2 separate regions of the Homo sapiens genome follow, and region 1 is linked to region 2. A link means that fine-mapping ties the variant in region 2 to the expression of a gene that starts in the linked region. Tissue or cell type: whole blood. Region 2 holds a variant in brackets; the other region holds the start of a gene. All regions are shown on one strand. Distances are between the middles of the regions.

Region 1 (5,000 bases), 67 kb before region 2:
GGCAGTGGTCTGATCCCTGAGAGCTTTTTATTCCATGTTACTCTGAAATTTATCTTCAGAATATGAAGAGTCAGGGGTAGGGGGCGCTGATGTGGTAAGGTTTTGTTTTACAGAAATCTTTCTGGATGCACAGTACCTTCCTTTGAGGCACTGCTTCCTTCAAACCTAGCACAGGGACTCAAAACATGTGCTTAGTAAATGTATATTGAATTGAACTGAACAAGCTTTTTACCAAATGCCCTGTTATGGATGAGGCAGGTCACCTTCCCTGCAGGACTCACTTTGGCCAAGAGAAGACTTGTAAAACAGGTCCAGCAGCCTCAATTATTGCACACTACTACCTGTACAACTGGAGTCCCCCAGAGATTAGGGCAGACCTTCATTGTTTACTTGTCTACCTCACCCATTAGACTTTGAGCTCTTTGAAGACAGGGAATATCTTAATAGACTGAATCCCCATAGCCTTAGCAAGAGGCCTGAAACATAGTAGCTCTCCGAACTCCAGTAATGTTGGATAAACGAATTGACTGAATAAGCAAATTTACCAAGGTAGACCCATGAGCTCATGTAGTTAAAGAGTATGGATAAGCTTCAGGGAAAGTATGGGAAGTTTTCAGGGTCAATGTTCCCAAAACCCTTTTTGAAAGGCATAGTTTCTAGTTGAGGTGGGGAGTTTTTATATGCACCTGACTTAGAATTTTCCAAATAGGAACCAAAATGTTGTAAGTGCTGTGGTAGAAATCCCACCGGGCCAATGGGAAGAAATCAGCTCTGTCTGTAAGAGGAGAGACAGGATGGAGGCCAGCAAAGACTTCACAGTGTGGGAATTCTTCAGTGGACTCTTGAAAGCTGAGTCCGGTGCTTGCTACTTGCCCGTTTTGGGGCATAAAACCAAACTTCTGGAGCTTTTAAGGCTGGAAGTGACCTGCTCAAGGTCACACAAGAAGTAGATGAAGCCACAGGGTAAGAGAGATGAGGTATCTGTACTGATAATTCCTACTTTCTCCTGACAGAGTTGAAAGAGAACCCAAAAATGTAGGAGGCAAAATTAAAGATTGTTCTCAGGAACAATTCTTAAAGTCAAGACTAATGAATCTGAATTTTTATTAGTAACCACGGAACTAACCCTTCCCTTCACTGTTCACAGTTTTTGTAACAGTAGAACAATTATCCAAGGGGTTTAAAAACCAAGGACGTTGCTCACAACGCCACACCCACTACTTCTCAAGTATTCTTCCAAAACACTCCCAGTAATGTGTACTGCTGAAATAGGATAGCGAAGGCTACAACAATCATGTCTTTTCAAACGTAATAATGAACATAAAATAACTATAAATCTCCTTCCCCGGTTGTTTTTCACTTCCCAAGTTACAGAATATTCCGGGGTGGGGGAGGGGCTGCGTAAGTCAAGTCCTACCAGCCCTTATTTTTCAGGGAGTAGAACCCTAAAGGTGACTGTCCAAGCCTGGAAGGGGTCATTTATTCCATGCAGAAGGAACTGGGCGCCGCTTTGCTGTGCCTCCTCGTAGCGGGACAGGGTGAGCGCCGCAGGACTGCGAAGTTCGGGACGGACTCGGTCCCGGACCGGTACTCGTGTGGCCTCCCGGCTCCAGCCTGGCCTGGCCCCGCCCCGCCCCTTCCCTCTCCCAGGTCTCTCGAATCGCCCGGCGTCTGAGACCCGCGACCCCGCCGGTACGCGCACAGGGGGCCTTTGTTGGCCCGACGGGAGCGGGCCTCGCGGGGCGCCGCCCGCCTCACCTTACCTGGCGCCTCCTCCCGCCCAGGCGCCCGGCCCCGCAACGCGAAATAAATGGGCCCAGACCCCCACTCCACCCGTCCCCACCCCCGCGCCCCAGCCCTGGCAGCCCGGGACGCGAGGGGTACTGGGCGGTAGGCCCGCTCTCACCTTCCGCGCTCGCTCAGCTCCTCTCGGCTCCTCCTCCTCCTCCCGGCGGTGGGTGCCGCCTAGCCGGGAGTGAGGGCGCGAGTGTGCGCGAGCTACCGCTTCACTTTCTCCCTCCTGCCGCCGCCGCCGCGCTGCCCGTGGCGGGGCTCCCCTCAGGACAGGGGAACTGCGAGGGAAGGGATGATGGGGGGGCGGGAGGGAGCGAGGCGACGCGGGCGGGGGGGGAAGGGGGGACTGAGGGGCGAGGTGCGAAGGGCTCAGATGGCCTCTGAGGCAGGAGGTGGTAACTGGATGCGGAGACCAGGTTCCTCGAGGGGGCTCACGAAAGCGCGGGGCTCCGTGGAAAAGGGAATGAGAGTCCAAGGGGGAAGGCGTCTGTGGGGGAGGACTGCAGAGCCTGTGAGGGAAGCGCGATGGGCGAGCGAGGGGGCGGGAGCGTGTGGGGGAAGCCGTGAGGGGGCGTCTACTGTGCAGCCACCACCTTCGGCTCCGGCTGCAGCCGCGGGAGGGCAGCCTCCCCCGCCCACAGCCGCGCTATTGTACGCCGCCCGGCAGGCCTGACCGCCTAGTTCACTGGCTCCCCTACTCCTCCTCCTCCCGCCTCCTCCTCCCCTCTGCCCTTTCCCCTTCTCCCCCTCCCCCTCCCCCACTCCCCCTCCCCGGCGCGGCGGCGGCGGCTGCGGCTCCGGTGGAGCCGTGCCCGCCCCGCCTCCCGCAGGTGAGAGGGGGCGGGGAGGGCCTGACCGACCCGTGGGAGCGAGGCCAAACCCTGGCCCGCATGAGGGCGAACGCCTGGGATTACGTCATCGGCGCGTGACGCCAGAGGCTGGGGAATCACCCGCTTGCTGCGTGACGTCATCGCGTCGCGTCACTGTTCTCGGTCCGCTGTCCGTGGCGGGTTGTTTCCGTGCAGCCTTTCTATCAGACAATTTTGGGACGATTTCTGGGAGGGCTACTGTAGTAGTCAGGATGGAGAAAGACGGCTAACTTCCGGCGCTGAGGGTCCTTTTCAGGTTAACAAAGCACCACCGCATCTATGAGCTCGTTGTCAAGGGCTGAATTTGAAAACTATCCGATGTCGTGTGATCTCACAGCCAGACATGTATTATGTTTTCTTTCTGTGGGAGAGGGGGCAGGGGTGGGAGGAAGACAAAGAAATTATAACGGAGATGTTTGAACTAATGTGAACTGACATACGAAAAGAATGGGCTTCCTTTCACGTTTTTTCCCCTACCGTGGAGGGTACTTTCGACCCAAAGCTTTCTTTCTCCTGAGCTCAGATTGTGTATTTCCCAATACCTCCCGAGCAGCATTACCTGCATACTCTTCGTACCTCAGATTCAACATGTGCGAAACTGAGACAGCATTAGAAAGGCTAAGAGTCCGGAATCAGGTTGCCTTGCTTGAAATCCTAGCTATTCAAATATTAGTGATAGGACCTTGACATTTCTAAGCCGTAATTTTTCTGTAATAATAAGTAGTACCTTAACTAGGTCTTCCTAAGCCTCAGTTTTACCATGGTAATAGTAACAAGCCCTTTAGAATGTTGGCTATTATTATTATTTCCCCCCCAAAATTGCTTCTTACGTTCCTTTCCGTTCTCAATGAATGGGCCACCCATTCAACAATCCCCTAAGCCAGGAACCTAGACATACTAATAGCTCCCCGTTCTTCCTCTCTCAACATCCATATCAAGTTGGACACCAAGTCTTGTAGCTTCTCCTAAATATTTTTCAAGTCCTTGCCTGTGTCGTCTTCTACTACCACCACCTGAACAACTGGAGCAACCTTTAGTCTCTTCAAACTCAATCTATTTTTCTCACTAGTTACCTGAGTAGCCTTATAAAAGCACAAATCTGATGATGTCCTCCCGTTTAAACACCGAAAGGATTTTATTGCTTTCAGGATAAAGTTCAAACTCCTGAACTTGGCACTTTATTACCTGACTGCTTACACTAGCCTTTCTAGCTTTGTCTCACATCATTTATTTTTTGCTCCAAGCACACTGAAATATTAACGTTATTTGAATACACATTTCTTCATGTCTTCAAGCTCTTCCCTACTTAGCTGACTGGCCAACACCTATTCATTGTACAAAGCTGAGCTCAAATGTCATTCATATTCATATTCATATTCATTTGACTAATATTTCTAAAGTTTCCCTAAGCCTTAACAAAACTGTAATTCTATAGTATTTCTATGCCTTTTATGGAAGTAACTGCATTTGTGTATCTAATTTCTTGAGTTCCAAGTCATATTCCTTTCCATATCCTCAGCACCTAAAACAGTGCTTGACATATACCTAAGTATCAATATGTTGTTAAAATATATTTAATAAGGCCAGGCGCGGTGGCTCACGCCTGTAATCCCAGCACTTGGGAGGCCAAGGCAGCCAGATCACCTGAGGTCAGAAGTTTGAGACCAGCCTGGCCAATATGGCGAAACCCCATCTCTACTAAAATACAAAAATTAGCCGGGCGTAGTGGCAGGCACCTGTAATCCCAGCTACTCAGGAGGCTGAGGCAGGAGAATTGCTTAAACCCAGGAGGCGGTGGTTGTAGGAAGCTGTGATTGCACCACCACACTCCAGCCTGGGTGACAAGAGCAAAACTCTGTCTCAAAAAAAATGTATTTAATAAATGTTCCTATTGTTCTTTCTATGTGCCAGGTACTGTTCTGAGCACTTTACAAACACTGTCTTTAAACCTCTACCCTCTACGGTAGATACTGTTGTTATCCTCACCCATCTTATTGATGCGGGAACTGAGGCACAGAGGGGTTAAGTAACTTAACCCAGGATCCTAACCCAGTAAATTGACTCTAATCTGGATTGTCTTTTCGTGATCTCTGCACTAGGCAGAATAATGGCTCATCCAATGGAATGTTCACATTCCAATCCCTGGGAACTATGAATATGTTACCTTCCATGACAAAAGGACTCTGCAGATGTGAGTAAATTGAGGATTTGGGGAAAGGGACTCTCCAGCTTTTGGGAGCAGACTGGAAAATGGAAAAGGCAAGAAAATGGATCCTCCCTTGGAGCCTCTGGAAAGGAAGAGATGGTATCCTGATGATACCTTAATTTTAGCCCACT
Region 2 (5,678 bases):
AATCAAAACCACAATGAGCTATCACCTCCCACCTGCCAGGATAGCCATTATCAAAAAGACAAAAGATAACAATTATTGGTAAAGATGTGGAGAAAAGGGAACCCTTGCACACCATTGGTGAGAATGCAAAATGGTCAGCTGCTATGGAAAACAGAATGAAATTTCTTCAAAAAATTAAAAATAGAACTGCCATTTGACTGAGCAATTCCACTTCTGGATGTTTAAAAAGAATTGAGATTAGGATCTTAAAGAAATACTAGCATTCCCATGTTTACTGCAGCACCATTCACAACAGCCAAGATGTACAAACAATCTAAATGTCCATCAACAGATGAACAGATAAAGAAAATGATGGTACATACAGACAATAGAATACTATTCAGCCTTTAAAAAGGAGGACATTCTACAATATGTGACAACATGAATGAACAATGAGGACATTATGCTAAGTGAAACAAGCCAGGTACAGAAAGACAAATATGGCACAATTCTGCCTAGTCCAATTCATAGAATCAAAGAGTGAAATGGTGGTTACCAACGACTGGAGGAGAGGGAAATTAAGAATTAATAACCCCGAGGCATAAAATTTCAGTCAAGCAAGATAAGTAAGTGTAGAGATCTGTTGTACAGCATTGAACCTATAGTCCACAATAATGTAAAGTTAAAAATTTGTTGGCCAGGCACAGTGGCTCATGCCTGTAATTCCAGCACTTTGGGAGGCCAAGACAAGTGGATCACCTGAGGTCAGGAGTTTGAGACCAACCTGGCCAACATGGTGAAACCCTGTCTCTACTAATAATACAAAACATTAGCCAGGGGTGGTGGTGGGCACCTGTAATCCCAGCTACTTGGGAAGCTGAGACAGGAGAATCACTTGAACCTGGGAGACGGAGGCTGCAGTGAGCCAAGATTGTGCCACTTCACTCCAGCCTGGGCAACACAGCAAGACTCCATCTCAAAAAAAAAAAAATAGTGACTTATTGAATGTGAGATGTGAAGGAAAGACAGGAGTTCAAGAGAACTGCCCAGTTCTTGTTTTTGTGATATTTACCAAGACAGGGTCACAGGAAGAAAAGCAGGTTTGGTGGGGGTTGGTGGGGGCAGTATAGAGGATGAATCAATTTTAGCATTGTTATATTTGACATCCTGAGGTGAACATCCAGGTAGAGACATGTAAACAGTTATACACATAGACCTGGAGCAGAGAGATTTGGGCCTCAGATACTGATTTGGCAATGATCAGCGCATAGAAGACAGCTAAATGTGGAGAGTGAGGATACAAGAAAGAAGGCTGAAAATGGAACCACAGAGAATAGCCAGTTTTAAGAGATGGAAGAAGGAAGCCGTCCTTAAGAAGACACTGCCAGAGAGGTAGGAATAGAACCTATTCTGTGAATCAGGAAAACAAAAGGAGGACAGAGTTTTGGGTAGAACATGGCCAGCTGTGTCAGATGGAGCAAAGCTGTCCAGTAAGACAAGGACTAGAAAGGGTCCTCTGGATTTGCCAAGACCTCTTTGATGACCTCAGCAAAAGCAATTTCAGTAGAAAGGTGAGGGTGAATTCTGCCTGTGTTGTGTATCGGGCATAACCTCGTGCTCCCTGTCACATTCCTTCAACTACTTCCTTCTCTCCAAAGGCACCACTCGCCTCCCACTACTCTGGACCTCTGCTGACTTCCCTGAGTTGCCTGAAGTCAGAACTGAAGTCCTAGACCTGCATGGCCTACACATGCTCCCTTCTGCATAAAATTACTCCTCCACTTTCAGATAGAATGAAACATTTGCCATACCTACCACAAGGCATGAAATCTTGCTTCCTGAGCTGGTGCCAATGGACCAGATGATGCACCATGGAAGTTACACAGCAGAAGTGGAAGGGAATTATCTTCTTGTGGGGCAAACCTTGACAAATGGGAAATAGGAGACAGAAGTGAGGCAAACAGATACGTTTTTCTCATTGTTCCCTTCCATTTTAAGGTGTGATTGCTCCTTGCAGCCATGCCAGAGAACTCCCACGGCTGAAGGACACTACCTGCTAAGTCACCTGCCGTTTCTCATCATGGCTTGCTGGAAGCAGGGACCAACATTGTAACACATCATCCTGCCTCCACTGACTTGTCTTCATTTTTCCCTTTCTAAGCTCCCAGAAAGAGAATCAGCACCTGAATCCTGACCCCAGGCTCTGCAATCTAGAGAACCTGGGCTAAGACACAGTTAGCGAGATAAGCTATAAGTTGAATAGGATGTAAGATACAGAGAAAGACAATGTAGACAATATTTTCAAGAAATTCCCTTCCCTGTGAAGGAA[A/G]GGAAAAAAAGTGGATTTCGGGGAGGGAAAGGAAACAGGTCCCAAAATTGTTTAGAAGGTGCCTCTAAAGCTGATACAGGCTTTGGTTAAAATGTTGCTATAAGAAAGAACATTTAAATTCACTCTCCATTTAGACTACTTGAGCCAATAGGCTCTCAAGAGCAAGTGTTCTATTTTTCTGACGTTTCAATACGATGTAATGAGAAAGGGAATAAAAAGGAGGGTACCATAACAGAGTGAATAGGAATTAGATTTGAGAAAGGCAGAGTTGGACAAGGTAGAGAATTGTCAAATTAGAAGATGAAAGGAATATTAAACATCCATGTTAGAGCAACTATTGATCCGGCTCAGACTCACATATTTGCTGTATTCCCTAGGTCAGGTTATCCAAAGAACATAGCAATATCATTTTATTTATAGATGACTATCAAAAGTACTAGTAACATCCAGCAAAAACTATCATCCAAAGATGTCTATTTACTTTGCTACAACAGAACCAGCCTTTAACCCAATTCAACTTAACAAATATTTATTTGCCCCTGTCATGTGGGGGCTCTGTGAAAGTAGGGTGGTTGGGGACATAGGGACCCTTCTCAGATGAATAAGATCCACTGGTAACCTAAAGATGACTATAATCTCAGAGTTAGAAATAAAATAGAGCACACTGATTATTATCATTGAAGGTCCGTGATGGTTAATTTTATGTGTCAGCTTGATTGGGTTAAGAGATACCCAGATCACTGGTAAAACATGATTACTGGGTGTGTCTGTGAGGGTGTTTCCAGCAGAGATCAGCATTCCAATCAGTAGACTGAGTAAAGAAGATCCCCTCACCAATGTGAGCAAGCGTCATCACATCTGGTGAGGTCCTGGATAGAACAAAAAATCAGAGGAAGGGTGCATATGCTGTCTCTTTCTGGGACACCAACCCTCTCTCTTGCTCTAGGATATCAGAGCTCCAGATTCTCTGCCTTTGGACTCTGGGACTTACACCAGTGGCCTCCCAATTTCTCAGCCTTTGGCCTCTGGGACTTACACCAGTGGCCTCCCAGTTTCTCAGCCTTTGGCCTCGGACTTAGAGTAACACCATCAGCTTCCCTGGTTCTCAGGCCTTCAAACTCAGACTGAATTAACCACCTGCTCTCCTGGTTCTTCAGCTCGAAGACAGCATATCATGGGCCTTCTCAGCCTCTATAATTGCGTGAGTCAATTCCCATAATAAATCCCCTCTTATGTAGCTAAATATATTCTGTTGGTTCTGTTTCTCCAGTGAACCCTAATACAAGATTGGATAAAACAAAAGCCATAAAGAAGATACAAACAAAATTCTAAGGAGGTCCTAAGCAGGGAGAGATTATGCTAGTGAAAAATAATTAAGAAAAACTTAATTGAGAGAGGTGACATGCTTCTTAAACATAATTTTAATAGTTGGATATGGGGGGAGGCTGGGCAGATATAAGAGTAAATCCAAAGACATGGAAGCAGGAAATAACAGAGTAGAATTGAAGAATGATAGACTTTGACAGTTTTGAAGGATATATCCAAAGTACTTTTAGAACCCTAAATGTTCCTATGTACCACTATATCAAGAAATTTTTCTCATAAAGTGCACACATGATGCTGAGTATATAGCTACCAAGCTACACGTGCTGTAAAGGATGGACCATTAGCTGGGCTAACTTAGCAACTAACTATGTGACTTGCTTTTTTTAAGTAACACTAGAAATTGATTTCTCCCAGTTCTGGAAGCTGGGAAGTCTGAGATCAGGGTGTTGCAGGGTCAGGTTCTGGTGAGGGACTTCTGGGTTGCAGGCCGCTGACCTCTCATTGCATCCTCACATGTTAAAGAGCAGAGCCCACCAGCCTGCCTTTTCATGTCCATGTCCTAGTGTGCAGGATTCAGATTTAGGTCTCAGAAAAATGAACATGACCACCGTTTACTCAGGAATGGTAAAAGCCTTGAATGTTAAATCCATAAATATCTACTGCCCACAGCAGTTCCATTTGGCTGCAGTGCTCAGCATGAATCATCCCAGAGATGAATCCTGCTTATTTTAAGATGAATGAGAACATTCTATCATTTGTTGGAAATTTCTTAATATTTCTTCTACTTTGATGAATCACTTCTGCATGAACATACCCCATGTTTTGTCTTCTCTCCTATCCCACCTCTTAGCTAAAACAAAGGGAAAATGGATTTGCAGATCAAGAACTGGAGAGGCCCAGCCCTTCAGGAGGCCTCGTAGGCCTCTGCTGACCGTCAGAAGAGTGGCCCATAGTAGCTCCCCGACCATAGGTCAAGAAATACTGTCTTTCTTTTTTTTTTTTTTTTTTTTTTTTTGAGATGCAGTCTCGCTCTTGTTGTCTAGGCGCAATCTCGGCTAATTGCAACCTCTACCTCCCAGGTTCAAGCGATTCTCGTGCCTCCGCCTCCTGAGTAGCTGGGATTACAGGTGCCCGCCACAACACCTGGCTAATTTTTGTATTTTTAGTAGAGATGGGATTTCACCATTTTGGCCAGGCTGGTCTCAAGCTCCTGCCCTCAGGTGATCCGCCCATCTTGGCCTCCCAAAGTGCTGGGATTACAAACGTGAGCCACCGTGCCCGGCCTGAAATACTCTTTTAAGTACAAGCCTTAGAGATAAGCATGACCTTACAGTACTGACTGGGGGAAAAAACCTCTAACCTTGGTCACATCCCAGTTTCTCTCTCCTGCTGCCTCTGGCAGCCTTTAAGCTGTAGAAGAGGAGATTGCAGAAAGAAACACATTTAAGCCGGGCACGGTCTCTATTTTTGTACTAAAAATACAAAAAATTACCCGGGCGTGGTGGTGCATGCCTGTAATCCCAGCTACTCGGGAGGCTGTGGCAGGAGAATCACTTGAACCTGGGAGGCGGAGGTTGCAGTGAGCTGAGGTCGCACCATTGAACTCCAGTCTTGGCAACAACAGCGAAACTCCATCTCAAAAAAAAAGAAGAAACACATTTAAGATTGCACAAAAAAGCAATGACAAAAACAACAGCAAAAAAACACAAAACCGTGGTCTCCACTGCTTGACTCACTGCCAGAAATAGTAGGCACTGGCCAGGCACAGTGGCTCACGCCTGTAATCCCCACACTTTGGGAGGCCAAGGCAGGCAGATCACTGGAGGTCAGGAGTTCAAGACCAGCCTGGCCAACATGGTGAAACCCCGTCTCTACTAAAAATACAAAAATTAGCTGGGCATGATGACATGCACCTGTAATCCCAGCTACTCAGAAGGCTGTGGCAGGAAAATCATTTGAACCCGGGAGGCGGAGGTTGTACTGCACTCTAGCCTGGGCGATAGAGTGAGACTCCATCTCAAAAAAAAAAAAAAAAAAAAAAAAA

Evidence for each region. PIP is the estimated chance that this variant, and not a neighbour inherited with it, causes the effect.
Region 1: it holds the start of PAK1, and the variant in region 2 is fine-mapped to the expression of PAK1 in whole blood (TOPMed, PIP 0.99).

The regions. Positions count from the first base shown.
Region 1 is chr11:77,471,646-77,476,645 of GRCh38, forward strand. It overlaps PAK1 (p21 (RAC1) activated kinase 1), which reads right to left and starts at 2,449. Exons shown (of 15, transcript NM_002576.5): 1 at 1,907-2,449. RefSeq lists an enhancer at 1,557-2,473 and silencers at 1,714-2,023, 2,044-2,093, 2,324-2,683.
Region 2 is chr11:77,538,147-77,543,824 of GRCh38, forward strand. LOC124902722 (a long non-coding RNA gene) reads right to left here and starts at 5,161. Exons shown (of 3, transcript XR_007062794.1): 1 at 5,127-5,161; 2 at 1,795-1,902. The variant A/G (reference allele first, on the strand shown) is at 2,309.